Linked DNA regions of Homo sapiens: region 2 is linked to region 1. The links come from fine-mapping of genetic effects on gene expression. A gene starts in region 1. The other region holds a variant in brackets. All regions are shown on one strand. Distances are between the middles of the regions.

What was found.
Region 2: its variant is fine-mapped to the expression of PLAAT4 in whole blood (TOPMed, PIP 0.98).

What each region holds. Positions count from the first base shown.
Region 1 is chr11:63,527,256-63,543,856 of GRCh38, reverse strand. It overlaps PLAAT4 (phospholipase A and acyltransferase 4), which reads right to left and starts at 7,049. Exons shown (of 4, transcript NM_004585.5): 1 at 6,980-7,049; 2 at 4,233-4,341. The coding sequence starts at 6,988. RefSeq lists enhancers at 7,101-7,150, 8,808-8,897, 11,285-11,944, 12,086-12,380, 13,931-14,590 and 1 more.
Region 2 is chr11:63,576,929-63,593,529 of GRCh38, reverse strand. It overlaps PLAAT3 (phospholipase A and acyltransferase 3), which reads left to right. Exons shown (of 5, transcript NM_001128203.2): 4 at 3,162-3,430. LOC105369335 (a long non-coding RNA gene) reads right to left here. Exons shown (of 3, transcript XR_950179.3): 2 at 6,903-6,962; 3 at 3,440-3,501. Among named protein-coding and RNA genes, the nearest start is that of PLAAT2, 22 kb to the right of the region's middle. The variant C/T (reference allele first, on the strand shown) is at 10,109.

The DNA.
Region 1 (16,601 bases):
TGAGGGAATCCTTTGTAAAGTGTCTTCTGTCCTACAATCTGGCACAGTTCTAGGCACATAGAGAGGAACACAGAAGAGCTGTCAACCAATGGAGCCCCAATTCCATTATATAGTGACTCCAGGTGTTATCTTATTTTTATTAAAATGGATAGTACCTAATGCACACAATAATTAGGTGTGTTACCTCTTTTGCCCCGTTTCTAATCTCAAGGCTGATGTTTGCATTTAGAACCCTCTTAAGAAAATCCTGTTGGCTGGGCGCAGTGGCTCATGCCTGTAATCCCAGCACTTTGGGAGGCCTAAACAGGTGGACCACTTGAGCTCAGGAGTTCGAGACCAGCCTGGACAACATGGCGAGACCTGTCTCTACAAAAAATACAAAAATTAGCTGCGCGTGGTGGCACACGCCTATCATCTCGTCTCAGCTATTCAGAAGGCTGATGTGGGAGGATCACCTGGCCTGAACTCGGGGAGGTCAAGACTGCAGTGAGCCTGATCCCTTGCATGTGCAGTTCCCAATGGGGTTTGCACTCCTATGAGAATCTAATGCTACTACTGATCTGACAAGAGGCGGAGCTCAGGCAGAATGCTCACTCACCTGCCTCTCAGCTCACCTATTGTGTGGCCCGATTCCTAACAGGCCACACACAGCCCAGGGTTGGGGACCCCTGCTTTAACTGATGCATTGATTTGATAAAGTATTTTACAAGCCTGATAATGTTATAACCCTATTTATTCAGGTCAGATTTATGCCAACTTTGCTGAGAATATGGAGGGTATAGATGAGTGAACATCAACAAACATAACTTCTACCGTGGTTAAGAATTTTACTTAAGAAAAGTATTGAAGTTCAAATCCAGGTAGTATTACATTTGAAATTTTTATAAGGGTTATTAATTTAATAAAATTCATTATCAGGTTTCCCCTATAAGCTTTCTCCTAGGTTAGTTTTCCACAAGCATTGTTTTACATACACTGTAATCAGGATAACACAAGCTTAGTGTTAGATCTTGTAGGAAACCAAGATTAGAAGCATTAGAAATGTGCAGAATTTAAGAAATTATGTTTTGTGGTAATCTGTGGCCAACGATGATAGAACCTAGTGCAATTGTAAAGTGAAATTCAAGGAGAAGGAATGAGGAGTTAGGCAAGCAGCACACTTGAATATTAGTGAAGGAGAGGAGCTGTGAGTCAGGAATCAGAGAGACCTGCTAAAACCAGACAGATATAAACACCAAAGACGGAAGCCAAATAGGTAGCCAAAAATCCAGATATTTGAGAAGCAGGAAATTTACAGCAACCAAAGAAATAGGGCAAGATAGGCAGGTGAACACACATGATACCTCAATTGACAATCTTCCTCCTACCAAGCCAGACACGTTGTAAATGCTGCTTCCCATTGGAGCCCAGAAAAAAGGAAAGTTTAGGCTTTCTGTGTCCTATGTGTGGAAGCAGGGAATTGGATTGAAGACTTTCATAGTTGTAAAATAAAGGCAAATCCTGAGGAACTCACTGATAGAGATGTGAAATGACAGTACGGAAGAAAACAGAATAACTATATAAATATATTAGTCTAGGGCCACTTAATTTAGAGGAAGAAAAAAAATCACCCCATCCACAGAAATAGTTTGATAAACAGGTCACTAAATAATTAGCATTTATAAAGATTCTTAGTTATCAAGGGCTGCATTGTATTTTATATACTCAGTTTTATAAGGCGATACTTTTAAATAAGCATTTTAATGAAAATGGTTAAACTGAAAATAATTTTGGTCCTTAAAAGGAGTCAGGAGCTTTTATATATAAGGTACATATTTTAAAAGAATACCTCCTTTATAACAGGGTTTTACAGACACTACTGTAATTTATAATCATTGTTTTTTACTTTTGGGTTCACCTAGATCGTATGAGTTGGTATGATACTTCCAGAACAAAATTATTCATAATGTGTTTTTTGTAATTTATGATTTTTAAGTAAGCTTGACTTATAAATTGACATTGTAATTTTGTACATAATTGGATATATGTGCTAAAATTTAACATTTAGATTTATTTAATTGTAGAAAATACAAATGTAAAACTTATACATGGAAAGAACTGTATGCAGTTGACTTTACCATGGAAATTGGAGGGAAACAGTTTTAGATCAATTTTCTTTCAAAATTTTCTTTATTGTAAAGTATGCAAAATATATATTCATACCATTTATTAAATCAGAATGTTTATGCAAAAAAAAAAAAAAGACTGCAGTGAGCTGTAATCACATCACTGTACACCAGCCTGGATGGCAGAGTAAGACACTGTCTCAGAGGAAAAAAAAAAAAAAAAAGGAAAGAGAGAAAAATTGTCTTTAAAAAGCCTCTTTACGGCTGAGCGCGGTGGCTCATGCCTGTAATCCCAGCACTTTGGGAGGCCGAGGCTGGTGGATCACGAGGTCAGGAGATCGAGACTATCCTGGCCAACATGGTGAAACCCCATGTCTACTAAAATACAAAAAACTAGCTGGCTGTGGTGGCATGCGCCTGTAGCCTCAGCTATTCGGGAGGCTGATGCAGGGGAATCGCTTGAAACTGGGAGGCGGAGGTTGCAGTGAGCTGAGATTGCACCACTGTACTCCATCCCGGTGACAGAGCAAGACTCTGTCTTAAAAAAAAAAAAAAAGCCTCTTTACACACTGCAAGTTAGGCACAAAAAGGACCATGTGTCTTCATTGCCATGCTTTGTCTTACAAGGTCCCTGAGGATCATCTGGATTAAGTGGGCTTGATTTACTATTTTCCATCAATTCAGACATTTTTACAATCCTGCCTGGGAGATGATGGCTTGGAGAAAACTGATAAGATGCAAATGTCTTGCCCTGATAGTGATGGGAATGGTTTTTGTCCAGTGACAATGTAAATGCTTGGTGAAAAGAGAACATGAGAAGTTATGTAGTGGCACTGCCCTAGAGGATATGAACTTGCCTGCACCTACCTAATTTGGCAGTCTCATTGTCTCATTTCTGCATTTTTGTTGTTGTTTTTTGAGACAATGTCTTCCTCTGTCTCCTAGGCTGGAGTGCAGTGGCACTGTCTCAGGATCTCGGCTCACTGCAACCTCCGTCTCCCAGGTTCAAGCAATTCTCCTGCCTCAGCCTCCTGAGTAGCTGGGATTACAGATGCCTGCCACCACCCCCAGCTAATTTTTGTATTTTTAATAGAGACGGGGTTTCACCATGTTGGCCAGGCTCGTCTTGAACTCCTGACCTCAAGTGATCCGTCCGCCTTGGCCTCCCAAAGTGCTGGGATTATAGGAGTGAGCCACTGTGCCTGGCCTCTGTGTTCGTTTTTTCCCCTTTCATTGGCTATCCATACATACGTTTCCTTCATTCTGCTTTTAACTGGGTATGTCATATTTCTGCTTCTGTTATTAATGAGTTAAATAAAACATTGGTATTGCTTACTGTGTATTTGTATGAGAATTTTAAAAAAATGTATAAACCTGTGAGAATTGCTCCCAGTAAGGAATCTTAAGTATATAATATCAAGACACCTTGTTGTGTGAAAACATATGAGGCAAAGGATCTGGCACGGAGAAACATTGTTCCTTTTGAGAAACTTTCTTCTTTAAGACCTAAGAAACCTGGCTGGTTTAAGTCGTATGAGATTCTGCATGCCAAGGTAACTGACTTTGAGCTGGAGAGATCCCAATGCTGAAGCAGCCCAGCTTCGCTGCGGGAGGCAACGGTCTCTTCTTCCGTTCTGCCAGGACCTATGGAATGCACTGTGTCTACTTCATGGGACATATGTGTGTGCAATCTCATCAAGCATCCTCTAAGAAGAATGTGTCTCCTAACTCAAGTTTCCCTTGCTTAACTGTCTTTCAGTGGCTCTCATTGACTTATTTTTTTATTTTTTGAGATCAAGTTTTGCTCTTGTTGCCCAGGCTAGAGTGCAATGGCACGATCTCGGCTCACTGCAACCTCTGCCTCCGGGGATCAAGTGATTCTCCTGCCTCAGCCTCCTGAGTAGCTGGGATTACAGGTGTGTGCCACCACACCTGGCTAATTTTGTATTTTTAGTAGAGATGGGGTTTCTCCATGTTGGTCAGTCTGGTCTTGAACTCCTGACCTCAGGTAATCTGCCCACCTCGGCCTCTCAAAGTGCTGGGATTACAGGCATGAGCCACCGTGCCCGGCCCTCTCATTATCCTTTTAACAAATATTTTGAAAATTATATATTCATCAGTCCTTACTTGGAGGAGCCAGATGGATCACGTAGCCATCTCCTATATACAGGGCCCAGTGCTCATAGCCAAGGCGGAAAATCTCAATCAGGTCTCCAGGTTTGGGCTCTTGGTGTGGCTGCAACAGAAAAGCCAGAGATGGAGTACCCGGCCTTCTAGGCAACAGCAGAGACCCTGGCTGGGGGAGCTGCAGCTCATCCTGGAGACGCCTTGCTGATGTTCATCAGCTGCTAGCCCCATGAGATCCTCAGCCCTGCTGTCACTTTCAGAGGCTCTTCTCAGTGGGGGCACTGGGGGCTGGAAGCCTGGAGAATGATCTTGTGGGATGGGAGACAGAAGGACCGTCTGGGCGCATGTGTGACATGTGTGTGCTGTGTGTGTGCATGCTGAGGATGCAGATGTGTGTGCATGTGTGCATTGTACACATGCTCCTCAGTAGGCCGACTCAAGAGCCTGCATGAACCAGCACCTTCACTGAGGCCAGGAGCAAGGCTGGGAAGGTGAGTCTTGAGCTCTCCGCCCTCTGCAGACTGACCCTCAGTTCCTCATCACTCCTGCCCTGTGCCTCTCCATGGCCCCAAGAGCCACCTCCTCCTCAGACCTTGCCCCATCCAGCCTCAGGACACCTATCTCTTGGAGATGACACCCTGGGAGACAGGAGCTCACAGCATCCTGCTGGGACCTGAGTGGGGTCTTGTGGGGCCCCCCAGCTCCCAGCACTGAGGGGGCTCTGCACTCACAGAACAGGCCTCTGTGGGAACTTGTCCTACAATAACTGCACCATCTCCACAGCCCCAGGGGAAGGCATGATCATCCCATTGCACAGATGGGGAAACTGAGGATCAGAGAGGTGGCAGGGCTTTCCTGAGAACACTCAGCTGGAAGGAGGCCGAGCTGGTTCTTCCCTGCACACCCCTCACCCTGGTTCCTGTCTTGGCCACCTTCTTCCCCTTCCTCACCTCCTTCCCACTTCTCCATGTCCTGCCCCAGGGCATAGCAGCCTCATGACTGGAGGATTTTTCCATTTTCACCCTCTCTGTCCCTGTCCTCAGTGGGTGACAGCCTCCTCCTCCCTCATCCCAGGATGTCCCATCATAGACCTGGGGTCTGCTCTCCTTTGCCCTCTTCCTCATGCCAATATCCAGTCACTAAAACCAATCAATGTGGACTCCGGAAGCTTCTCCTTGTTGGTGTGCTTGTCAATATCCCATCCACTGACTTGGTTCAGGCAGCCCCATGCCTGCCTCTGTGACCCCCACAACCCCCTGACCAGCCCCTGCCTCCTGTCCCTGCCACTCCATATCCAACTCCTCAGAACCCATGGTGGCCTTCCCAAGGGCACATCTGGCCATGACCGTCCTCTGACCTCAGGGCCCAGGACACACCCTGTGGGCAGCTCCCAGGCCCTTCCTGACTGGCCCTTCCTCACCCTCCTCTCCCTCCCTGGGCTCTGCACCCACAGGCCCACTGAGTGACATCCCAGCCCCTCACTACTGCCCTGGCTCTGGTCTCTGCTGCTCTGCACATCTGGTTCTCCCTGCCTCCATCACTTCCCTGCAGCCACTCTTCCTCTTCCCCTCCCTCAAACCCCCTCACCTGAGAAGCTGCCCTGATGGCCCCAGCCTGGCTCAGCTGACCCGCCACCCCACTCCTAGGACCTGGGTCCCCGGGGGCCTCTGCTGCTCTCTGCAGGGGTCAAGTTGAGCTGCAATTCCCTGTGCCTCCCTGTGCCCCTCTGGGCTGTGAGCTCCAGGCAGGCAGGATCCTGTGTGCTCCTCCCTCCCTGCACCTCCAGGACCCAGTGAAGGGCCTGGCGTAGAATGGGGCAAGGAAATAGACAAGGAAGAGGGAGGAGAAAGGAGCAGGGCCAGGACTCCCTCCCAGCTCCTCCTCTGTATGTCAGGGCACCACAGGAGATGGTTTCCATGTGGGGAGAGAGAGGGGCTTTTAACTGCAATGCTGAATGTCTAAAACCACAGTCAAGGTACTGGCAACCTCAGCTGGTGGCCAGTGAGATATGAGCTTTGGCCTGGGCTCCCTGTTAAAAGCCCTGATTTGTTTTGGCAGCAGTAAAGCCCTTCCCCAGGATCAGGTGGTGCTGTTGGAGTGGGCTGCCCTCCAGAATTTGCAGGACTCCTTCCCGGAATGGTTTTGTTTCTAGTAATAGCCTGAGCCCCGCTGTTCCTTTTTAGTCACACACCACCGAGCTCAGCCTGCTCTCCCTAGAGCTTCTGCCAATCGGTACATCTGGGCTGATAGGAGGAGAAATTTCAGTTTTCAGAAAGCTGCTGAGATTAGAATGCACCTTAGAAGGCTGGATGATGCCACAGAGGAACGAGGAGAGAGAAAGCATCGTTTGGGGCCGAGAAGGGACTGAGCCCCAGTCACAGCAGAAGCAGACGATGTTGGGATTTGCTTGCTTCCCACAACCCAGAGTCCCCCACCTGCCCACACTCTGGCTTCTCCTCAGGCTGAGGTAGATTTGACACCCGGCACCCCACAGCTCTCTACTACATGGGAGTCCCGGGCTCCCCGCACTGTGCCAGTTACGCAGAGGAGGTGGACTCTGCCCAGAGGACTCCCTGTCCAGCTGGGCAGATGCACTTTTAAAAGACAAATACAGTTTTCCATGACAGCCTTCTAAAGACGAGCTCTGGAGCTGTGTGCCCAAGGCCAGGAGCCTGGACTGAGGCCTTTCCTAGGGGGAGCTGCCCAACTGCTGTAGAGTCAGTAATGCAAAGCCCTGGGAAACTTACCGAAGCCATCTCGAAGCCAAGAGGAGGTCTGGTGCTCCTCTTGTTTGTGGATCAGCTTTTATGCTGAAGGAGAGAATTTCACTTTCACTTTCCTTTTGACACTGTTTCAACCTCACTTAAATACTAAACACTGTTTAAAAGAGACAACTGTTTAAAAAGGAGCTATTTCTCTAGATGGAAGGACTAATCATTTCTTACACAAGCCATGGACTCATTGGTGCTTTAAAGCCACCTTGGGAGCAGCCAGAGTCGAAGGGGAGCCCTGAATTTCTGCCCTTGCTTGAGAAATAAAGGTCTTTTCTTTTTTTTTCTTTTTTGTTTGTTTGTTTGTTTGTTTGTTTGTTTTTTTGAGACAGAGTTTCGCTCTTGTCACCCAGACTGGAGTGCAATGGTGCGATCTCGGCTCATTGCAACCTCTGCCTCCCGGGTTCAAGTGATTCTCCTGCCTCAGCCTCCCAGGTAGCTGGGATTACAGGCACCTGCTGCCATGCCTGGCTCATTTTTCCATATTTAGTAGAGACGGGGTTTCACCATGTTGGCCAGGATGGTCTCGATCTCTTGACCTTGTGATCTGCCTCCCCGTCGGTCTCCCAAAATGCTGGGATTACAGGTGTGAGCCACCGCACCTGGCCAAAATAAAGGTCTCTTCTAAAAAGAACCCTGGGCAGCTCTTCCTACTCCAGGAAGGGGAGGCATTCGGAGGCAGGGAGATGTCAATCCCCAGTGCACCCCATAGGACATTGTCTTGTAAAGACACCCAGAAAATATTGGGCCAGAAGTCTTGGGAGAAGGCCAGAGGGGGTGTTTCATTCCATGGGGATGCCCTGGAGGTGAGGGGTACCTTAGACCATGTGGAGCCTGGGAGCTCATGGCCCCATTAAAATGCATTTGGGTGCAAGAAGCAGAACTAAACTCAAAAGGGCTTCAACAGCCTGGACACCCATTGTCTCGGTAACAGAAAGGCAGGAAGAGGGTGACTCAGGTTGGGTTTAGTGGCTCACCAAGGTCACCAAGGACTCAGCAGGCTGTCTCCATTGCACTGGTCCTGGGTCTGCACTGTTGCCCTGCAGGGACTCCCATGGCTGTAGCAGCCTTGAGTGGCCCATTTTTACCTGGCTATGCCCAAAAGATGGAGGGAAAGATAATTCTCATTTGTCTTTTTTTCAGGGAGTTAAGTCTTTCCCACAGTTCCCCAGATGACCTGTTCCCTTCTCCATTGGCCAGAACTGGGCCATATTTTCACACCCAACCAGAGGCCTAGACAGGTGGATCACTTGAGCCCACGAGTTCAAGACCAGCCTGGCCAACATGGCGAGACCCCGTCTCTGCTAAAAATACAGAAAAAAAAATTAGCCGGGCATGGTGGCATGTGCCTGTACTCTCAGCTACTTGGGAGGCGGAGATGGGAGGATCGCCTGAACCCAGAAGTCAGGCTGCAGTCAGCTGAGATTGCTCCACTGCAGTCTAGCCTGGGCAACTGGAGTGAAACCATGTCTCAAAGCAAAACAAAACAAAAAACCCCCATTTCTGTTGTTTAGGTTAGCATGCCTCTGGGTTTCACTCAAAACACTGTTGAACGATGTTGCTGTGTTTGGGCAGAGCTTCCAGGGACCGCTGTGGATATCATGAGGAAGCCTCAGAGCTTTCTCGGGCAGAGCTTCTACAGGTGTCTTGCCGTGGTCAGTTTCTTTGCTGTTTTTATGGCCCTCTGCAGGAGTGTCCATGGTCATTATCTCAGCCACCTTTTGGTTTCAGTTTCTCATCAGGTCTTGGGGGTGTCTGGCCACAGCAGATGTTATCTTATTACCTCAGTCCTTTATACCTATGTTTATCATTTTGAGGGTTCAGCAGTTTCACTGTGGGCTGAGTCACTTGTCGTAAGTGACTCCATTTTGAAATATTTAGGATCACAAAACTCTTTAAGGGGGCCCCCACAAGAGTCTGCATTCAACAATCCCAGAGTCTGGGTTTTTGCCTTGTGGCATAATAAAAATTTTTATTTTTAAATAAATTTATGCCTTGTAGCATAATAAAAGTTTATTTATGCCTTATGTGGCATGATAAAAAAATATATTTTTGGTCTTTGACCCCAGTTCCAGACACAGAGGTCCTAAGACCCTTGGAATTTCCTGAGTGATAGGATGTCATGTTATTCAGAAGGAGTCTCTGTCAAACAAATCTGAGTTTATGCTAATGAGGTGGCTCTTGGTTGAGGAGGGAGAGCTGGATAACTTCAGGTTGGGGACTGATCACCATTATTTAATCAGTAATGTCTACATTATGCAGCCTCCGTAGAAACCCCTACATGACGGGGTTGGGAGAGCTTTGGGGCAGGTGAACACAGATGTGGTGGGAGACTGGCCTGGCTGGAGAGGGCATGGTGGCAAAGATTCTCTGTGTGACCACATTTTAGTCAGGTTCCCAAACCTCTTCCTAGGCACATCTGTACTTCCTTGTAAAATCTAATTTTAGCAAAGGACCCTGCCAAGTCAGTTTAGCAGGAACTTCCCACCCTCAATATCTGACCGGGTTCATCCTTCTCACTGTCCTCCAGGTGATGTCTGATCACCCCGGCCTGTCTTCAGCAAGAATCCTGTTAGTGTGGTTTAACCAGAATCTCTCTTGCCCCTGAGGTTTCCTCTTTGTAATTTTGCATCCACTGACCTGTATGCTTCTCCTTGCCTATGAATTCCCACTTGCCCGTGCTGTGTTCAAGTTTGAGCCCCATCTCTCTCTCTTGCTGCAAAATCCCAGTGCAGTGGATATCAAGCTTGTATCATTAGATAATTTTTTCTTTAACAATGGAAGCTGTGCACAATCACTGCCCCCCATATTAGTTTCTTCTTAGTTTCTTCCATGTAGCTGTTGCTGAGTTGTATCCTTTATAATAAACTGACAATCATAAGTAAAGCAGTTTTCTAAATTTTGGAAGTTGTTCTAGGGAATTATCAAATTTAAAGGGGATTTAGGGGGTCTCCACCATTTGTAGTCAGCCAGGTAGAAATGTGAGTAGCCAGGGAACTCCATTTGTTGCTGAGCCTGGAGACTTTACCTGTGGAGGCTGAGCCTAACTCTGGATAGTTAGCGTCGGAATTGAGTCGGATTGTTGAACATGCGGTCAGTGTTGGAGAATTGCAGGACTGATTGATGTGGACAAATGACATGTATTTGGTTGCTATCAGAAGAAACCATACATGCCCACTTCTGTTACTCGAAAAAAAACGGGGATCATTCGTTTAGTAACAAACAACTTTTCATGAGAACACAGGTGTGGATCAATAGCAGTTTTATTACTTGGCACAAGTAAGGAGGACACTGTGAGGATTCTCCAAAGCAGTCTTCCCTACGAAAAGTGACAGGAGGGTTTTATGGGTGATGGAGAGGGGAGAGGGTGCATCGGCACATGCAGAGGAGGGGTCCCAGTTGCACAGATGCAGTGAGTCATCGTGCCAACACATAGGTTGCATGCTATGGTAATGAAGCTGTAGCTCCTCCGGGGTGGAGACTTTAGCATGGTAATGAGGAAAGTTCACTCAGATTCATCTGTAGGTTGCTGGGATCTGTTAGGAGCTGGTTTTAACCAACCACATGACTGCATTCTATGCAAGGTTTAGGAAGAAACAGGCTACAGGATGGTAGGCTGTAAAAGGCTGATTGCTGAGTTGATTAAATTCCTATAATCCCTGGAAACCCTTGCTGTCTGCTTACACTTCCAGTTCATTGCAGCTTGTGCTGAGGTTGAAACAGCTTGTGGTAGATAGTGTCAGGTTTTAGCTTAGAGTCAGTTCCAGGCAGCTGGGGTCTGTGAATGCAGGACTCCAAAACAGCCAGTGGCCTTTCTTCAGCAGCACCAAAGCTTAGATGCTGCAGGAGTGACGGCTGTATTCCAAGTGACAAACAAGGCTTTCTGAAGCCTGTTCTGCTTTGTCAGACTTGGAGTCCAAACTGACCCACATCAGGATGGATGGTCTGCTCCAAAGGATCAGACATCTAATCCCACAAGAGCACATTAGCAACGGAGACTGCCTCTCTTTCTCTATTGCCTCTTTTTTTCCTAGAGGCTCCAATAGGTAACAATAATAGCAGAAATAATCAGTTATGAAGACTGATTTGTTTTTAATACTCAAAGAGTTTAAATTCCAACCAGCCCACTGACAGCAAAAATCTAGGAAGTTGTGCTTTACCACCAACACTTTCTTCTTGCAGCTTTCCCTGATTGGGATGATATCTCTAGCATGTATGAAATTACAAGCATATGATATTTTACATTAATTTATATTGTATATCTAGATGCAATAGCTGCTGTAACCCAAAAAATATTTGAGACAGCTTTCAGTCAAAAATTTAGAGATTTATTTAGCTAAGGTTTAGGACACATCCAGGAAAAAAGGAACAGAAAACCATAGGAAACATCTGTGATTCGTGCTTTTTCCAAAGTGCGTCTGGGGACATCATTATTTAAAGGGAAAAGTGTGGGCATTAGGGGAAAGAGAAAAGGGAAAAAAAGGGAGGGTAGATAAAAGAGGCAAGTGGTTGCATTCCTTTGAGTCTTTGATCAGCATTCACTGAATCTGCATTTTACATGTGAAAGGAGGGGGTAGAGGAATAGTTAATTATGCATTCATTTCATGCTTAGTGAATCTGGATTTTTATATAAGCAGTCAAATATGCATTTGTCTCAGGTGAATGGAGGGATGACTTATAGTTCTGTCCTTTCTCCCATACCTGTGATGATAAGCTGTCAATTTACATCATCAGGGTGTCATTCAGCAGAACTGTTTTAGGGTGAAGATCTTGGGGCTCACAAAGAATTCCCTTGTGAGCAAATTGTTAGGGAGTTATATAGCTTTTTATTTTTGTAGCTATCTATTTAGGAACAAAATGGGAGGCAGGTTTGGGTGACCCAATTCCTAGCTTGAATTTTCCCTTTGGCTTAGTGAGTTTGGGTCCCGAGATTTTGTTTTCCTTTCCTGCAGCAAAATAGAAAGCCATTTAAAAATATGTTTTTTCATTGCAAATTTATTTGAAGCCATGGCAGCATTCAGTATTTAGATGTTGAGAAAGACTCTGGCTGGAATTTGGGACAAGGAAATGTTCCCCCTCCACTAACCTACTATAGTAGCGAGGTAGGAGGCTGGCAGGACTTGCTTTCTCGTTGCAGCCCTGTTGATCATGTTGATTGGAGCAGGATGTGGTCAGAACAGTATGCAGTGAAGAAGCCAGCCAAAACTAGCAGAGGGTGATGGAAGTGACCTCTATTTGCCCTCACTGCTCATTAGCATAAGACACTCCCACCAGTGCCATGACAGTTTACAAATACCATTGCAATAGGCCATGGTAATGGCCTGGAAGTTACCTTAGATGGTTCTGGAAACTCTCCACCCTTTTCCAGAAAGTTCTGAATAACCCGTCTCTTAATTAGCATATAATTAAAAGTGGGTATAAGTACAGCTGCCAACAGCCCATATGTTGCCAACTCAGCCCGCTGCCTATGGGTTAGTCCTGCTCTGCAAGGAGCAGTACTGGTTCAAAAAAGTTGCCTTCTCTCACCATAGGCTCATCCTTGAATTCTTTCATGGGCTAAGCTCCAATGTGGTGTGGGGAAAAGCAAGAGAGATCAGATTGTTACTGTGTCTGTGTAGGAAGAAGTAGACATAGGAGACTCCATTTTGTTATGTACTAAGAAAAATTCTTCTGCCTTGAGATTCTGTTAATCTATAACCTTACCCCCAACCCCGTGCTCTCTGAAACATGTGCTGTGTCAACTCAGAGTTGAATGGATTAAGGGCGGTGCAAGATGTGCTTTGTTAAACAGATGCTTGAAGGCAGCACGCTCCTTAAGAGTCATCACCACTCCCTAATCTCAAGTACCCAGGGACACAAAAACTGCGGAAGGCCGCAGGGACTTCTGCCTAGGAAAGCCAGGTATTGTCCAAGGTTTCTCCCCATGTGATAGTCTGAAATATGGCCTCGTGGGAAGGGAAAGACCTGACCGTCCCCCAGCCCGACACCTGTAAAGGGTCTGTGCTGAGGAGGATTAGTAAAAGAGGAAGGAATGCCTCTTGCAGTTGAGACAAGAGGAAGGCATCTGTCTCCTGCCCGTCCCTGGGCAATGGAATGTCTCGGTATAAAACCCGATTGTATGCTCCATCTACTGAGATAGGGAAAAACCGCCTTAGGGCTGGAGGTGGGACCTGCGGGCAGCAATACTGCTTTGTAAAGCATTGAGATGTTTATGTGTATGCATATCTAAAAGCACAGCACTTAATCCTTTACATTGTCTATGATGCAAAGACCTTTGTTCACGTGTTTGTCTGCTGACCCTCTCCCCACAATTGTCTTGTGACCCTGACACATCCCCCTCTTTGAGAAACACCCACAGATGATGAATAAATACTAAGGGAACTCAGAGGCTGGGGGGATCCTCCATATGCTAAACGCTGGTTCCCCGGGCCCCCTTATTTCTTTCTCTATACTTTGTCTCTGTGTCTTTTTCTTTTCCAAATCTCTCGTCCCACCTTATGAGAAACACCCACAGGTGTGTAGGGGCAACCCACCCCTACAATGTGGGGCCCAAACATGGGACACAGATTTGGCATGGGACACAGATCCAAACCAGTCCAAACTGGGCCCACTGCCTGTCTTACAAGACCCATGAATACAGCTATTCTCATTTATTTTTGTATTGTCTATGGCTGCTTTTGTGCTACAGTGGCAGATTGTGTGGCCTCCTGGCATGCGAGGCCTAACATATTTATTACTTGGGTCTCTGCTGACCCCCTGGGCTAGAGGTTTATCAATTTTATTGATCTTCTCAAAGAACCAGCTTTAGACTGATTGATTTTTTTCTTTTTCTACTTTATTTATTACTTCTTCTATCTTTATTACATTTTCTTTCTTTGCTTGTTTTGGTTTTCATATGCTTCCTCCCCCTTCTTTTTTTTTCTTTTCTGGCCAATTGCTGAAAACCTGGCTCCCCTACTTCCTTGAGGTAAAAGCTTAGATCATTGATTTGAGACATATCTTCTTTTCTAATATAAGCTAATACTATAAACTTCTCTGTAAACACATTTTTAGCTATATTCCTCTGAGACTGTAGGAATAAAAAATGTCAGGCCTCTGAGCCCAAGCCAAGGCATTGCATCCCCTCTGACTTGCACGTATATGCCCAGATGGCCTGAAGTAACTGAAGAATCACAAAAGAAGTGAATATGCCCTGCCCCACCTTAACTGATGACATTCCACCACAAAAGAAGTGAAAATGGCCGGTCCTTACCTTAAGTGATGACATTACCTTGTGAAAGTCGTTTTCCTGGCCTCATCCTGGCTCAAAAACCTCCCCAACTGAGCACCTTGCAACCCCCACTCCTGCCTGCCAGAGAACAAACTCCCTTTGACTGTAATTTTCCTTTACCTACCCAAATCTTATAAAACGGCCCCACCCCTATCTCCCTTTGCTGACTCTCTTTTCGGACTCAGCTCGCCTGCACCCAGGTGATTAAAAGCTTTATTGCTCACACAAAACCTGTTTGGTGGTCTCTTCACACGGACGCGCATGAAAAAAAACAACGTGCTTTTTCTATTCTCTCATTCAACAATAATCAACAAAACGTCTTCTGTGACCTCTGCTCACCAAGAAATGTGTGATTTGTCCCCACCAACTACTCATTCATCAATTCTGCAGCAGACATCAGCTGTGTGTCCTCTCATTCTGTTCAATTTTGACACTAATTGGAGATAATGTCAGATCCCACAGGTTGAGGGCTCAGTTGCACAAGATTCTCCCCAACTTCTGATGTGAATTGCCAGCTTCAGGTTGTTTTACTTGTGTTTCTGATTAGCTGTGTATAAACTGGGGTTCCCAGGACCTCCTCATTGGGTTTGGTTAATTTGCTAGGGCAGCTCACAGAACTCAGGCAAACACTTACTTACACTTACCTGTGGGGAAAAGCAAGAGAGATCAGATTGTTACTGTGTCTGTGTAGAAAGAAGTAGACATAGGAGACTCCATTTTGTTCTGTACTAAGAAAAATTCTTCTGCCTTGAGATTCTGTTAATCTATAACCTTACCCCCAACCCCGTGCTCTCTGAAACATGTGCTGTGTCAACTCAGAGTTGAATGGATTAAGGGCGGTGCAAGATGTGCTTTGTTAAACAGATGCTTGAAGGCAGCACGCTCCTTAAGAGTCATCACCACTCCCTAATCTCAAGTACCCAGGGACACAAAAACTGCGGAAGGCCGCAGGGACCTCTGCCTAGGAAAGCCAGGTATTGTCCAAGGTTTCTCCCCATGTGATAGTCTGAAATATGGCCTCGTGGGAAGGGAAAGACCTGACCGTCCCCCAGCCCGACACCCGTAAAGGGTCTGTGCTGAGGAGGATTAGTATAAGAGGAAGGCATGCCTCTTGCAGTTGAGACAAGAGGAAGGCATCTGTTTCCTGCCCGTCCCTGGGCAATGGAATGTCTCGGTATAAAACCTGATTGTACGTTCTATCTACTGAGATAGGGAAAAACCGCCTTAGGGCTGGAGGTGGGACATGCGGGCAGCAGTACTGCTTTGTAAAGCATTGAGATGTTTATGTGTATGCATATCTAAAAGCACAGCACTTAATCCTTTACCTTGTCTATGATGCAAAGACGTTTGTTCACGTGTTTGTCTGCTGACCCTCTCCCCACAATTGTCTTGTGACCCTGACACATCCCCCTCTCGGAGAAACACCCAGGAATGATCAATAAATACTAAGGGAACTCAGAGGCTGGCGGGATCCTCCATATGCTGAACGCTGGTTCCCCGGGCCCCCTTATTTCTTTCTCTATACTTTGTCTCTGTTTCTTTTTCTTTCCTAAGTCTCTCATTCCACCTTACGAGAAACACCCACAGGTGTGGAGGGGCAACCCACCCCTTCACTTACCAGTTTATTACAAAGGCTATTTTAAAGGATACAAACAAAGAGATGCATGGGGTAAGACATGCAGGAAGGGGTGCAGAGGTTCCATGGCCTCTCTGGGTGCTCCATCCTGTGTATCCAGATTACAGGCATGAGCCACTGCACCTGGCCTGGGATTACAGGCATGAGCCACTGCACCTGGCCTGCGTATTATTTTATACATTTATAGGTCATTTGGGTTTTTCCTTCTGTTTATTATTGACTCATGACTGTAAACCAAAAAGTATCTGAGACAGGTCTCACTCAATTTAAAAGTTTATTTTTGCCAAAGTTAAGGACATGGACAGAGAAAAGGATCATAAAATCCACAGGAACAATCTGTGGTCCATACTGTTTTCCAAAGGTGATTTTGAGAGCTCCTAAATTTAAAGAGGGTAAGTGGGTTGGAGGGGAAAGAGGGAGGGTATGATCACATTACTGGATGCACATTTTTTTTTCTGTTTTTGAGACAGTCTCACTCTGTCCCATCAATGGTGTGATCTCGGCTCACTGCAACCTCTGTCTCCTGGGTTCAAGCCATTCTCCTGCCTCAGCCTCCTGAGTAGCTAGGATTACAGGCGTGTGCCACAATGCTTGGCTAATTTTTTTTTCTTTTTATTTTATTATTATTATACTTTAAGTTTTAGGGTACATGTGCACAAAGTGCAGGTTTGTTACATATGTATACATGTGCC
Region 2 (16,601 bases), 50 kb before region 1:
TAGGGCCCGGCCTGGTCTGGCCTGGTCTGTGACTTTGGGCCTCGTCTTTCTCTTCTCCCCTCCTGGGTCTCTAGACTCCAGCAACGTTGGCCTCCTTGCTGCCTCTTGGCATGCCAAGCTCTCTCCTCCCTGCAGACTTCATTCCTGCTGTTCCTTCTGTTCTAGATGCTTCATCATTCAAGCTTCAGCAAAGATGCCTTTTCCTTGGGGTGGCCTCCCCAGCCTGAGCAACAGCAGCCTCTGCTGGTCATCCTTGCCATGTCACTCCACTCTGTCTTTCCATAGTGTCTGTTGGTACCTGCAAGTATCTTATTTTGTGTATTTGTTCATTGTCAGCGTCTTCTCAGTAGCATGGGAATTGCTTGAGGGCAGGCCTGCTGTCCAGATCACGTCACTGACTTCAGCACCTTGGACAAGGCCCGGCACCCAGTAGGGCCTCAGTATTGATTGGCTGCACTGAGCAGGTGTGTGTGGTAGATAGAGGGTTGGGGAAGGCATGACAAGCACCCGGGTGGACAGGTGGACAGGTGTGTCACAGACCATCAGGTCAGTGATACTCCTTCAAAGGAAAAGATGCTTCTACCTGCATCTCACTTGAGTTTCACAGGAGTCATGTGGGATAGATGAGGCAAGGAGGACTGACCTTCTGCTGCTGAGAAAACTGTAGAAATTAGAGCTGGAAGGAAGCTTATAAACTTGCTGAAGTGCCTGTCCTGTGCCAGACACTGGTGAAAGCATGTTTTCTGGCCAACCCCTTTAATCCTCACAGCTGCCTGTGCAGTAGGGACTATTTTTGTTTCTATCCTACAAGGAATGGGGGACTCAGAGAAGTTAAGAAACTTACCCAAGGTTGCATAATGGTAAGGGGTGCAGGCAGGACCCAAACCCAGGCAGTCTGACTTGATTCTGTGCACTTAACCACAATGCTGCACTGCCCAGTCCAAGCTATCCCAAAATTCAGTCGCTGATGGATTGCCACATCCACATGCTCTTTCTGTGATTGTTCACTTCATATTTTCTTCAGTAGACTCACTTTTTAAAAGAAGGAACTTTAGGCCAGGTGTGGTGGCTCACACCTGTAATCCCAGAACTTTGGGAGGCCGAGGTGGGTGGATTGCTTGAGCTCGGACCAGGCTTGAGTTCGAGACCAGCCTGGCCAACATGGTGAAACCCCATCTCTACTGAAAATATAAAAATTAGCTGGGCATGGTGGTGCACACCTGTAGTCCCAGCTACTCAGGAGGTTGAGGCATGAGAATCGCTTGAACTGAGGAGGAGGAGGTTGCAGCGAGCCAAGATCACACCACTGCATTTCAGCCTGGGCAATGGAGTGAGACTCTGTCTCAAAATAAGAAAAAAAAAAGAAGGAACTTTAAATTACTGTGTTGATATGTATTTGTGCATCAATTTTAGTGTGTATTTGGGGATTTCTGGAGCAAAGTGAAGTGACAGGTCCAGACCACTCAGCTGGTTGGTGATGTGCTGGGGTCGAACCCAGAGCTTCTCACCGCCAGCTTGAGCACAGGGTACCCCTGTCCTGGGTGGCATCTAGATATAAGTTTAAGGAAGTCCTCACTCTTGGTTGTTGACTCTGCACTTGCATGGCCCTGAGATTTGGTGCCTCCTTAAACTTTGGGCTCTAGGCAACTTGCTTGCCTCTTCCGAGTCCCTGCGCTGTCACCCACTTTGCCTGGGAGCTGAGGCTGGGTGGGCCCCAGGAGCTCATCCTCCCGACAAACGCAGGGCTCCAATAAGGCACCCTCTCTTTTATTTACTTCAATGAATCTTCCAAGCTTCACGTGCCCTTTTCCTATCAAGTCTGAATTCCCTAAATTTCTAATATCTTGGCATTGCATGTAGGCATTGCATGCAGGCTGAAAAGGTTTATTGGTCTTTGGAAAGCGGAGAAGAGCAGGACCTGAAATCTAATCGGCCTCTCCTGCTGTTGCTGTCACACGGATGTCATTGTTGAAGACTGGTCCTACCCAGTTTAACAGGGTGCTGCTGTGGCACCCTGGGGGCCTTGACCCTGACAGGGTCACAGTGGCTGTTTGAGGAGAGTGAGAGTGAACCTCCTTTGACATGCTCCCTGGGTGCGTAGGCCCATCCCTTGAGTGCATACCTACTTTTTCTTTTTCTTTTTTTCCTAAGGCAAGATCTCACTCTGTTGTCCAGGTCGGAGTGCAGCGGCGCAATCTCAGCTGACTGCAACCTAAACCTCCAGGGCTCAAGTGATCCTCCTGCCTCAGCCTCCTGAGTAGCTGGGATCACAGGTGCACACCACCATACACGGCTAGTTTTTGTATTTTTTGTAGAGACGGAGTTTTGCCATGTTGCCCAGGCTTGTCTGAAACTCCTGGGCTTAAGCGATCTGCCTGCCTTGGCCTCCCAAAGTGCTGGGATTACAGGTATGAGCCACTGTGCCCAGCCCATCCCCACTTTTTCAATCATCATACTCAGTGCCTGCCTCTCCCTGCGCCACACAGGTTGTTTGAGTTGGGAGGAATGCCCAGTCTGTGTTGGCATCAGCTTTCCCTGTCCACCATCCTGGTCTTCATGTTGAACCTGGACTCCTTGTCTTCAAGATCATTTCATTTCTGGAGCTTTGTGGCCCTTCCTTGCCCTGGGCCTTGGCCTGGGCTGTGCCCATGTACCCACTAAGCCTCCTTAGCATCCATCACAGCTAGGGGGACAGCTGTGCGTTTTGGTGGGTCTGTTTCCAGAAGGGCTGGGACTCTGGAAAACCCAGCCATGTTTTCTGCAGTAAGCAGCTTTGTGTGGTCAAGTAGGTGTAGCCCTGATGCCATCATAAAAGTCTCCCACCTTATCTTCCCAGGTGGATGAGTATGCTCTTGGCTCATATTTGCATAACCAAGGGGGCCACTTAAGTGTCATGAGGTATAGAAGACCACCTTCTCTAGAGTAAGAAAAAAATCACAGTAAATCATGGAACTTCACTCCCTTTCATTTTAGATAAGGAAACCAGGGCCCAGAGACCACACACACCTTCCCCAAGGCCCACAGCCATGCGTCTGACCCTTCCACTTGTTGCTTATCCTTTGTGGATGAGCCAAGGGCAGATGCCCGGCTGGGGGCCAGCTCTGAGCCTCCGTGGCCCTTCCCAGGACCAATCCCTCTGTTTCCTCTTTGTGGATCTGCAGGTGAGGTCGCAGGAGCTGGTGCAGCCAGTGTCATGTCCGCCCTGACTGACAAGGCCATCGTGAAGAAGGAATTGCTGTATGATGTGGCCGGGAGTGACAAGTACCAGGTCAACAACAAACATGATGACAAGTACTCGCCGCTGCCCTGCAGCAAAATCATCCAGCGGGCGGAGGAGCTGGTGGGGCAGGAGGTGCTCTACAAGCTGACCAGTGAGAACTGCGAGCACTTTGTGAATGAGCTGCGCTATGGAGTCGCCCGCAGTGACCAGGTGCGTCCTCTGCCTGTGTCGCCTTCCCCAGGAACCAGACCATTCCCTCTGCTGACGGAGGCTGGGCATGGCTATGGAGGCATGAACAAGACAAAATAGCAGAGACAGAATTACTGCCCTTGAGGATGTCACAGTTGGGACAAGGGTGGGGACAAGGGTGGGGAGAGAGGCAAGTTGGCAATGCAGATCAGTGTAGTCGGGGGCGGGGGTGGGTGGCCAAGGAAAGGAGTCACAGACATGATGATCATTCCCATTGCCAAGCCCTCCCTGGCCACCTGTCCCTGAGATGGCCCTCCCCAGCCCTAAAGGCAGGTTTTAGGACCCACTACCTTACAGATTGGGAAACTGAGCTTAAGTAACTTGTCTACAGCCATTCATTTCATCAAAAAAATCTTTGTTGAGTCTCCAGACCTGGTACCTGTCTTTTCCTGTGCAGATAATTAGCAGAGTTGGGATTTGAAGCCCAGGTCTGTGTGGCATAGCCTGATCGTGCTTATAAACAGCACTGTCTTCAGCCTGGCTGAACCCTAAGGGTGAATCTGGGAGACCCTAGGGGATGCAGTTTTGTTCATTTACTTGATTTTATTTTTGTCTTTCCTCTCCTTTCAATCTCTTTTTCTCTTCTCATTTCCTTGCACTTCTTCCCCCTCCCTTTCAGCCACTTCCATCTTTTTTTTTTTTTTTTTCTTTGCATAGGTGAAAAGAACATTGGGAAGGTTCTTACATGGCTGTTGATGCAAAAGAATACATATTTTTTTCAGTGAATGATTAGCTTAAGATCCATCAGGCTGTTCACTTTTATTATTATTTTTTTTGAGATCCAATTTCTTCTTCCCTGGTCAGTGTGGTGGTTAAGAGCCTGGGCTCCTGGAGTCAGGCCAACGTGGGCTGGACCTGGTCTCTGCCTTTTGCCGGCTGTCTGACCTCAGGAGAGTTAGTCCAGCTCCCTACACTTTGGTAAAGTACGAATGATAATACTCATCTTGGAGGATTACCTTGTGAATTAAATAAGAGCATGTTTATTCTTAGCACACTGAATACATTGTAGTAGTAAAAATAGTCATGATTATCCTCATTTTTTTTTTTTAAATTATCCTCCTCTTTTTTTTTTTTTTTTTTTTTGCTTGGCTCATCCATTGCCTGGTCCCCTGGCCTCTGTGGGCCACAGCCACTTGAATGGGAAGACACTGACTAACACCACCTATAGGAATCACTCTTACTCTCTTCATACTGCTGATAACCAGCTGTGCTTACTACACCAACCCTCATGTTTGTTAGGCGGTTCCTATACCTGTCTACAGTGGGATATTAGTTACCTTTGAATGGGTATCCTCTTATTTTTTTCTTCGATCAGTTGGGTTATTCATGTTCAACAACTATTTATATATGAATGTTAAAGGTGATCAACTTAGAAATTGAGTAGGTGGTACATAGCTAACTAGGTAAAGAAAGGGCAATATTGCCAATGTTTGTGAAGATTGCAGTCTGTTGGTCATGGTCTGGCTTCAACTTCCCTGAGAGTTGATAAGAGCTTTCTTCTGGGGAATCAGTGGGCAGGGCCATGAGAAGAACTTCATTAGTGCCTGAATATTGTCAGGTTAAAAAGGTGATGCAGTGAAAGAAAGCAGGAGACCAGGGGATGGTGGCACTTACTACATCTATCTCTTGGGGATAACAGCCTTCAAAACATTTGTGTCTTGTTTTTCTTTTCTTAAAACAATTTTATTTTAGGCCGGGCACAGTGGCTCGCACCTGTAATCCCAGCACTTTGGGAGACTAAGGCGGGCAGACCACTTGCGGTCAGGAGTTTGAGACCAGCCTGGCCAACATGGTGAAACCCCATCTCTACTAAAAATACAAAAATTAGCCGGGCATGGTGCTGGGCATCTGTAATCTCAGCTACTCAGGAGGCTGAGGCAAGAGAATCACTTGAATCCGGGAGGCAGAGGTTGCAGTGAGCCGAGATCACACCACTGCACTCCAGCCTAGGTGACAGAGCAAGACCCAGTCTCAAAAAAAATTTTTTTTATTTTATTGTTTTTTATTTTAATAGAGATGAGGTCTCACTCTGTTGCCAAGGCTGGTCTTGAACTCCTGAGCTCAAATGATCCTAACGCCTCAGCCTCCCAAAGTGCTAGGATTACAGGCATAAGCCACTGTGCCCGGCCACATTTGTCTCTTGTCACACTTGATGAGGCATTGCTGTCATCTTGGTATCTCTCTTTACTAGCATCCTAGAAATTTCTTTCAGTTCCCTGCTATATTAATGCTTTTATCCTCTGTAGTTCACATCCTTCTCTTTTTTGGTTTATGCCCTTGTTTTGGTAGACTACTTCCCCTAATAGTTTACTGAGAAATGGTACATTTTAAAAAGATCCCTAGGCAGGCATGGTGACATGCGCCTGTAATCCCAGCTACTGGTGAGGCTGAGGCACGAGAATTGCTTGGACCCAGGAGGCAGAGGTTGCAGTGAGCCGAGATCACGCCACTGTACTCCAGCCTGGGTGACAGAGTGAGACTTGGTCAGAAAAAAAAAAAAAAAGACCCAAGAAACAAAAAACAAACAAAAAAAGATCTTGCATGCCTGAAAATATCTTTATTTTATCCTCACATTTGATTAATCATTTGGCTGGGTATAGAATTCTAGGTTAGAAATAATATTTTTTTTTTCAGAATTTTGAAGGCATTGGTTTATTGTCATCTAGCTTTTGTTATTGTGGTAGAGAAGTCTGAAGCTGTTCTGATTTTTTATTGTTTGTATGTGATCTATTTTTTCTTTTCAGAACTGTATAGAATCTTCTCTTCATCCTCAGTGTTCTGAAATTTATTACCTTGCACGGGTCTATTTTCATGTATTGTGCCAGGTACTTGGAAACTCACTTTCTTTAGTTCTTGGAAATTTTCCAGTTTGTATTCTCTGGCACTCCTATTATTAGGCTATTGGATCCCTAGACTGCTTTGCTGATTTTCTTATCTTCTCTCTCTTGTTTTTTATTTATGTATCTTTTTATTTATTAAGACAGAGTCTTGTTTCGTCACCCAGGCTAGAGCACAGTGGTGCGATGTTGGCTCGCTGTAACCTCTGCCTCCTGGGTTCAAGTGATTCTTCTGCCTCAGCCTCCAGAGTGGCTGGGAATAAAGGCATGTGCCACCACACCTGGGTAATTTTTGTATTTTTATTAGAGATGTGGTTTCCCCATATCGGCCAGGCTGGTCTGGAACTCCTGACTGCAAGTGATCTGCCTGTTTCTGCCTCCCAAAGTGCTAAGATTACAGGCGTGAGCCACTGTGCCTGGCCCATTTATGTATCTTTTTAAATTTGAAAATGAACATTTATTGACAGATTTAGGTATAATAGAAGTTTTTTTTTTTTGAATTAGCAGTGACAATATTAGCATAAGAAAGACAAACATGATAACAAATTGAGTTTCATCATTGGTGATCTTGCATCACTATCAAGGTGTTTACTTACTCTTGGTAAAACTCATGCTCCTATGCAGCAATAAACTCCAAATACAGAGTACAAGACAACCTTGGGAAGCAATAAGATACTTTTTGAAATTCAGAGTTCTACGTTAAGAATATTTGGTAGGTTTACAAAATATATCCTAATCATCTCATTTAGTTATTCTTTCAGCAGTTATTAACAGAATAAAGAACGGGGCTGGCCGGGCGTGGTGGCTCACGCCTGTAATCCCAGCACTTTGGGAGGCTGGGGTGGGTGGATCACCTAAGGTGAGGAGTTTGAGACCACCCTGGCCAACATGGTGAAACCCCGTCTCTACTAAAAATACAAAAATTAGCTGGGTGTGATGGCGGGCACCTGCAGTCCCAACTACTCAGGAGGCTGAGGCAGGAGAATCGCTTGAACCCTGGAGGTGGAGGTTGCAGTGAGCCAAGATTGCGCCAGTGTACTCCAGCCTGGGCAACAGAGCGAGACTCCTTCTCAAACACACACATACACGTGCACACACACACACACACACACCCAAGTAGCTGAGACTATGGGTGCACATCACCATGCCTGGCTGATTTTTGTATTTTTTGTAGAGACAGGGTCTCACTTTGTTGTCTGGGCTGGTCTTAAACTCTTGGTCTCTAGCAACCCTCCTGCCTCAGTCTCCCAAAGTGCTGGAATTATAGATGTGAGCCACTGCGCCTGGCCATAAATGCTATTTGGAGTAATTAAATAAAATTCCAAATCTTGAGATAGTAAAATAACTAAGAAATGTCTTATACCATTATTCTTTTTGTAAACAATAATTTAACACTTGCAAAATGAAACAATGCAAATTGAACACATCACACTTTTCTTCCTGGGACTTTGGCCCTACCCATCTACCCATTCACTTGAAAGAGGCAAAACAATGATAACACAACAGTGAAACAGCATGAACAATTCTACTTGATCCCATCACAGAAAATGAAGCCAGAATATTCTACAACAAAAACAGAGGTGCCATCTCTACTGCTTCTAAAGATTTCCTCTTTCATTTCTTGGTCTAGGATAGGGGTTTCTCAGCCTCAGCACTATTGACATTATGGGCCAGATAATTCTTCATTGTCAAGTCCTGTCCTGTGCACTGTAGGATGCTTAGCAGCATCCCTGGCCTCTACACACTAGATACCAGTAGCATCCCACCGCCAGATGTAAGAACCAAAAACGTCTGTAGACAATTCCCCCCACAGGGAAAAACTGTCTCCAGTTGAGAACTAGTGACTTAGGTGAGTAATGATCACTGACACATGCTGTGAGTCAAATTAACATAGAACTTCTGGCCGGGCGCAGTGGCTCATGCCTGTAATCCCAGCACTTTGAGAGGCCGAGGCGGGCAGATCATGAGGTCAAGAGATCGAGACCATACTGGCCAACATGGTGAAACCCCGTTTCTACTAAAAATACAAAAATTAGCTGGGCGTGGTGGTGTGCACCGGTAGTCCCGGCTACTCGGGAGGCTGAGGCAGAATTGCTTGAACCCGGGAGGTGGAGGTTGCAGTGAGCCAAGATTGCGCCATTGCACTCCAGGCTGGGCAACAAGAGCAAAACTCCATCTCAAAAAAAAAAAAAAAGAACTTCGATGCATGCCCCATCTTGCTAGAGATGATAGATTTAGTACATATCAGAAAATGTCCACCAGTATTTTTCTTTGTAAGCACTGTCAGTGCAGTGACTCTCCTTTTCATTTAACTCATGAGGATATTTTTGTGTGTTTTAAAGAATCTGACCAGTCATTATATTTGTGCTGAGCTCTTTGAAGCAGACTAGATTTTCCTTCAAAAGAATATTTATGGCCAGGTGCGGTGGCTCACGCCTGTAATCCCAGCACTTTGGGAGGCCAAGGCAGGTGGATCACGAGGTCAGGAGATCAAGACCATCCTGGCTAACCTGGTGAAACCCCGTCTCTACTATAAATACAAAACAAAATTAGCTGGGCGTGGTGGCCTGTAGTCGCAGCTACTTGGGAGGCTGAGGCAGGAGAATGGCGTGAACCCAGGAGGCGGAGCTTGCAGTGAGCCGAGATTGCACCACTGTACTCCAGCCTGGGCGACTGAGCAAGACTCTGTCTCAAAAAAAAAAAAACAAAAAAAAACAAAAAAAAAAGTTTATGATTAATCAAATTTCCTGAGAAGGGAAACAATGAATTTAAACTAAAACGTAATTTGTGCTTTACATGCCTAAGAATATTCTAAAAAAAAGATTCTCCTACTTTCCACCTACCTAAAAATATTTAGGTTTCAAAAAACATATATTTTAGTAGGGTTTTGTAAAGAAACTTTCATACTGAACAGTACTTAAAAAAAAAAAAAAAGCAACCAGAAGCTATACTCACAATGAAGTCTAGTCTGAGTGAGAGAAAATATTAAGGTAAATAGAAATTGAAGATGTGTCTGGCGGCAATACATATATTACATAAATCTGGATAAATTGTGGGGTATTATTTTGAAATTACTGTAAATGAAACCAAATTTTTATGCAAATATTTTATTTCTTTTTAAATGATTTATTATTTTTTGTATACTTGATCACTGTTGGAAAATATACAACTATTTCATAACCATTCTTATATTGTAACCTCTAACAGTCTCAATTGGATTGCTTTCAGAATAACACTACTATCTCCACTTCTTCTTTAATCCACCTATAACATTGTTGAAAGTGAAGGCAGCACATTAGCACTTTCTTTTTTCCAGAAATGATTTAGATTTCCCTAAATCAAGGCTTAACTCAGAAGAGCTTTGTAGTATAAATGTCTAAATGTCTGTAGTCTGGCAGAATTTGTTTGCCCACTTAAAAAAAAAACAGTCTTCTTAATATTTCTAATGAGAGACAGCTTTTCTCTTTCACAATATCCTGATATCCTGATTTAAGACCTGTGACACACACCAGGTAGCCCATTTTCATGATCAGAAATCCTGTAATAACAACACAGCAGCTGGATTGGACCTTTCAGTCTTGCAACATGAAAATGATCAATGGCATCTGAAGGTAGCACTGACTCTTGGAGAGAGAGTTTTTCCCATCAAGTTTGCACTATTAGGACTAACTAGCTTCCAACAGTCTTGTGTTTAATCATACTCTTTGACTATGTACAAAGCATGGCCACAAACAATGAGGTTATTGTTGTTTTCCTTGACAAAGTATCTTTTGTATGAACCAGTTGCATCAGCTTTTGTTTT[C/T]ACACCATGAGGTTCTATAAAGAACTAGGGACATATTGTTCCTCCTCCATTATCTGCAGACTATTTCTCCTACCCTGACACAGAGCTTAGCAAGGAAAATGCTGGATACAAGTGATTTTATGCAGGTTCCCTAGCAAGTTAACCCAACAGAACCATGGCTGCCACAAAACCATGCCTAATTATCTTTTAGAGGAGCATTTAAAGACTTAGCAGCAGTCAAACCTCAGGTTGGTAGCTCCATCCAAACTTTGGTCATCATGAATTCTGTCTGTTAAAACTACTTTTTTTTTTTGAGATGGTGTCTCACTCTGTCACCCAGGCTGGAGTGCAGAGGTGTGATCTCGGCTCACTGCAACCTCCGCCTCCCGGTTCAAGTGATTCTCCTGCCTCAGCCTTCTGAGTAGCTGGGATTACAGGTGCGTGCCACCATGCCTGGCTAATTTTTGTATGTTTAGTAGAGATGAGGTTTCACCATGTTGGTCAGGCTGGTCTCGAACTCCTGACCTCATCATCCGCCTGCCTCGGCCTCCCAAAGTGCTGGGATTATAAGCATGAGCTACTGTGCCTGGCTATCTGTTAAAACTTCTATGTGACCAATGTTGAGAAGAGTTTGGGGATCTTCAGTGGTTAAAAATATATACGTATCTTGATGCTACTGAGGCTTATCTGGGCCATAAATGTGTTTAATGTCAGGAAACACATAGTTGTGTTTAACCTCAGGAAACACAGCAGTGTAATTAACACAAGGTGCCCAGAACTGATTTCTCAGCAGCCAGAACTCATGATGAGAAAACTCACAGCTGAGTGTCGTGGTGAATTGTGATAGTTTCCTTTCTGTTTTGGGAGGGAAGTGGAGGGAGTTCTTTTTTCTTTATGATAATTATTACTTCCTTTCATTGCCGAGTTTTCTTTGTACCTGTTGTCAATTCTTCCCACATGATCCAATTAGCTCTCAGTACAGTTCTCCACAAGGGAAACCATGTCAAGTAACCTACAAGTTCTTGTTTATTTTGCTTGGACACGTCTATCCCAGAGATGGCCCTTCTTCCCTCTGTGCTGGTTGCTCCTTGGCCAATTGCATGGCTGTCATCCTGGACTCCCCTTGGCTGTCATCCTTTGGATTTCCTTTCCTTCTCTTGGATTGCATTCTCTGATTCTATGATCTCTTAGTTTTCTGTTTCTTTGCTCTTTCTCTTATTTAGGTAGATCACATCCTCCAGAAGTTGCTTTAGGTTAGAAACACAGTACAATGGGAGAGGATAGTGGTTATGGCAGTCCTCAACATGCTAGGCTCTGGAGTCACAATGCTCCAATCTGGATTGATAAGTGCATTATTTTCCTATTGCTGCTGTAACAAATTAGTACAAAGTTAGTGGCTTAAGACTCCACAATTTATTATCAACAGTTCTGTGGGCCAGAAGTCTAAAATGAGTTTCACTGGGCTAAAATCAAAGCATTGACATTCTTTTCTAGTGTCTGTAGGAGAAAATCAATTTTCTTGCCTTTTCCAACTTCTAGAGGTTACTGGTATTGGGGGAACCAGTCCCTAATATTTCAACATAGGTTCTTTTCTATTTTCCGTAAGTGTTGGCCAGGCTGAGAAATAAAGAGAAAGAGTACAAAGAGAGAAATTTTACAGCTGGGCCTCCAGGGGTGCCATCACATATTGGTAGGACCGTGATGACAACCCCCAGCCACAAAATCAGCAAGTTTTTATTACGGATTTTAAAAGGGGAGAGGGCGTACAAACAGGGAGTAGGTCACAAGGATCACATGCTTCAAAGGGCTATAAAGATCACAAGGTGAAAGCAAAATTAGAATTACTGATGAGGGTCTGTGTCCTGCTGTGCACGCATTGTCTTGATAAACATCTTAACAGGAAACAGGGTTTGAGAGCAGACAACCAGTCTGACTAGAATTTACCAGGCTGGAATTTCCCAATCCTAGTAAGCCTGAGGGTACTGCAGGAGACAGGGCATATTTCAGTCCTTATCTCAACTGCATCAGACAGACACTCCCAGAGCGGCCGTCTATAGACCTACCCCCAGGAATGCATTCCTTCCCCAGGGTTGTTCCTTGCTCGGAAAAGAATTCAGCGATATTTCTCCTACTCACACATCTGTCTATAGGCTTTCTGCAAGAAGAAAAATATGGCTCTATTCTGCCCGACCCCGCAGGCAGTCAGACCTTATGGTTATCTTTCCTTGTTCCCTGAAAATCGCTGTTATTCTGTTCTTTTTCAGGGTGCACTGATTTCGTATTGTTCAAACACACATATTTTACAATCAGTTTGTACAATAGTGGTCCTGAGGTGACGTACATTCTCAGCTTACGAAGATAACGTGATTAAGAGATTAAAGACAGGCATAAGAAATTATAAGAGTATTAATTGGGGAAGTGATAAATGTCCATGACATCTTCACAATTTGTGTTCAGAGATTGCAGTAAAGACAGGTGTAAGAAGTTATGAAAGTATTAATTTTGGGAACTGATAAATGTCCATGAAATCTTAACAATTTATGTTCTTCTGCTGTGGCTTCAGCTGGTCCTCCGTTTGGGGTCCCCGACTTTCCACAACATACTGGCATTCCTTGGCTTATAGTCCCCATCTATTTTCAAAGCTAGAGCAATGGCTGGTTGAGTCTTATATTGCATCATTGTGACACTAACTCTTCTGTCTGTCTTCTACCTTTTAAGGAACTTTGTAATTACATTGGGCCCATCTGAATAATCTAGGATAATTTCCTCTTTTTTTTGTTTTTGTTTTTTTGAGACAGTCTTGCTCTGTTGCCCAGGCTGGAGTGCAGTGGCGTGATCTCAGCTCACTGCAAACTTTGCCTCCTGGGTTCAAGTGATTCTCCTGCCTCAGCCTCCCAAGTAGCTGGGATTAGAGGCATGTGCCACCACGCCTGGCTAATTTTTGTATTTTTAGTAGAGATGGGGTTTCACCATGTTGGCCAGGCTGGTCTCGAACTCCTGACCTCGTGATCCACCCTCCTCGGCCTCCCAAAGTGCTGGGATTACAGGCGTGAGCCACCACACCTGGCCGATAATTTCTGTATTTTAAGGTAAATTGATTAGCAGCCTTAACTCCATTTGTAAGCTTAATTCTCACTTGCCATGTAGCATGATATATTTATAGATTCCTGAAATTAGGACATGGACACCTTTTGGGGCTTATCATTCTGCCTACCAGTTATTCTTTACACCTGGTACTAAGTTGTTATCCTGGAATCTCCCTTTACTGTCATTCTGGGGAGATTCCCTTCCAGTCTCTCTAGTAGTAGAAGGCCCATTTTCTCTATCTCATGTCTTCTACTTTCTCCATTTACTCCCCTGTTTTTGGGGAACCATTTTCAGCAGCTTTCTGTAAGAGGATGCATGGGAGGTAAATTCTTTGAGACCCTGTGTGTCTGAATTATTTGTCATTTTACCCTCTCACTTGATTTGATACTTTGTCTGGGTATAGAATTCTAGGTTGGAAATGGTTTCACTTCAGAGTTTTGGAGGCATTGCTCCATTGTCTTCTTCTTTTTTTTTTTTTTTTTTATTATACTTTAAGTTTTAGGGTACATGTGTACAACGTGCAGGTTTGTTACATATGTATACATGTGCCATGTTGGTGTGCTGCACCCATTAACTCATCATTTAACATTAGGTGTATCACCTAATGCTATCCCTCCCCCCTCCCCCCACCCCACAACAGGCCCTGGTGTGTGATGTTCCCCTTCCTGTGTCCATGTGTTCTCATTGTTCAATTCCCACCTATGAGTGAGAACATGCGATGTTTGGTTTTTGTCCTTGTGATAGTTTGCTGAAAATAATGGTTTCCAGCTTCATCCATGTCCCTACAAAGGACATGAATTCATCATTTTTTATGGCTGCATAGTATTCCATGGTGTATATGTGCCACATTTTCTTAATCCAGTCTATCATTATTGGACATTTGGGTTGGTTCCAAGTCTTTGCTATTGTGAATAGTGCTGCAATAAACATACGTGTGCATGTGTCTTTATAGCAGCATGTTTTATAATCCTTTGGGTATATACCCAGTAATGGGATGGCTGGGTCAAGTGTTATTTCTAGTTCTAGATCCCTGAGGAATCGCCACACTGACTTCCACAATGGTTGAACTGGTTTACAGTCCCACCAACAGTGTAAAAGTGTTCCTATTTCTCCATATCCTCTCCAGCACTTGTTGTTTCCTGACTTTTTAATGATCGCCATTCTAACTGGTATGAGATGGTATCTCATTGTGGTTTTGATTTGCATTTCTCTGATGGCCAGTGATGATGAGCATTTTTTCATGTGTCTTTTGGCTGCATAAATGTCTCCTTTGAGAAGTGTCTGTTCATATCCTTCGCCCACTTTTTGATGGGGTTGTTTGTTTTTTTTCTTGTAAATGTGTTTGAGTTCATTGTAGATTCTGGATATTAGCCCTTTGTCAGATGAGTAGATTGGAAAAATTTTCTCCCATTCTGTAGGTTGCCTGTTCACTCTGACGGTAGTTTCTTTTGCTGTGCAGAAGCTCTTTAGTTTAATTAGATCCCATTTGTCAATTTTGGCTTTCGTTGCCATTGCTTTTGGTGTTTTAGACATGAAGTCCTTGCCCATGCCTATGTCCTGAATGGTATTGCCTAGGTTTTCTTCTAGGGTTTTTATGGTTTTAGGTCTAACATGTAAGTCTTTAATCCATCTTGAATTAATTTTTGTATAAGGTGTAAGGAAGGGATCCAGTTTCAGCTTTCTACATATGGCTAGCCAGTTTTCCCAGCACCATTTATTAAATAGGGAATCCTTTCCCCATTTCTTGTTTTTGTCAGGTTTGTCAAAGATCAGATAGTTGTAGATATGTGGCATTATTTCTGAGGGCTCTGTTCTGTTCCATTGGTCTATATCTCTGTTTTGGTACCAGTACTGCTCCATTGTCTTCTTGCTTCCAGAATTGCTTTGAGAAATCTGAAGCCATCCTGATTCCTGATCTTTTCTCCATTTCCTGTTTTTCTCCCTGCTCTAAATGTTGTAATATCTTTACCCAATGCTATAAAATTTCATAGTAATGTGCCTTTGTGTAGGTCTACTTTTATCCATTAAGATGGGACTCAGAGCACTATTTCTTTTCTTTTTTTTTTTTCTTTTGAGACTGAGTCTTGCTCTGTTGTCCAGGCTGGAGTGCAGTGGCACCATCTCAGCTCACTGCAACCTCTGCCTTCCAGGTTCAAGGAATTCTTCAGCCTCAGTCTCCCAAGTGGCTGGGATTACAGGCGCGCACCACCATGCCTGGCTAATTTTTTGTATTTTTAGTAGAGATGGGGTTTCACCATGTTGCCAGGCTGGTCTCGAACTCCTGAGCTCAAGCAATCTGCCTGCCTTGGCCTCCCAAAGTGCTGGGATTACAGACTTGAGCCACTGCACCCAGCCGGATTGTTCTGTTTTTTATTTTATTTTTTTCCCTTTGGTTTCTATTTCTTTATTTTTTTGCTATTCTTTTTGAGAGATTTCCTTAACTTAGCTTTATCTTTCAACTTTTCTGTTGAGTTGTTTTTTCACATTTTTATTTTCTATGAACCGTTTTTATTTTCTCAATATTGCATTATTTTTTATAGTACCACGTTCTTATTTATTGGATACAATATGCTGTCTTATTCTCCAGTGATAATTTTTACACTCGATCTTAGCCAAGAGGCCGAGAAGCGATCTAATGATAGTTTTTAAAAGGACGTTTCCTTTTGGATGCAATATGCTGTCTTATTCTCCAGTGGTAATTTTTATACTTGATCTTAGCCAAAAGACTGAGAAGCTATAGTTGTTAAAAGGATGTTTTCTTTTCTAGATATAGTTTCTGTTTCTCCAGATTGCTATTTTTTTTTTGTCTCTGTCTTCAATTTTAGAGGACTTCTTCAGATGTTTGGTGTGTTGGTTGTATGCTCATGATTAAAAGTACACTTGCCTGGCTGGGTGCGGCGGCTCACGCCTGTAATCCTAGCACTTTGGGAGGCCGAGGCTGGTGGATCAAGTGGTCAGGAGTTCGAGAGCAGCCTGGCCAATATGGTGAAACCCCATCTGTACTAAAAATACAAAAATTAGCTGGGCGTGGTGGCGGGTGCCTGTAATCCCAGCTACTCGGGAGGCTGAGGCAAGAGAACCACTTGAAACTGGAAGGTGGAGATTGCAGTGAGCTAAGATTGCGCCATTGCACTCTAGCCTGGGCAACAAGAGCAAACTCCATCTCAAAGATTAAAAAAAAAAAAAAAGTGCACTTGCCAACCATCATGTTCAGTTGAATTCAAAGAAAACCAACTCACATTACTTAGTGTAAACTAAAATAGTTAACAAATTATATCCTAAAAACAATGTCTGTTTGTTAAATGTTGTTGCCCTAGGTTTTTAAATTACAACATCTAAATACAATTTCTCCTCTTAAATTTGTTAAGCTAAATATGTATTTGTTCTTTTTATTTTAGATTCCTTAAAGCATTTTAAACATTTCTTT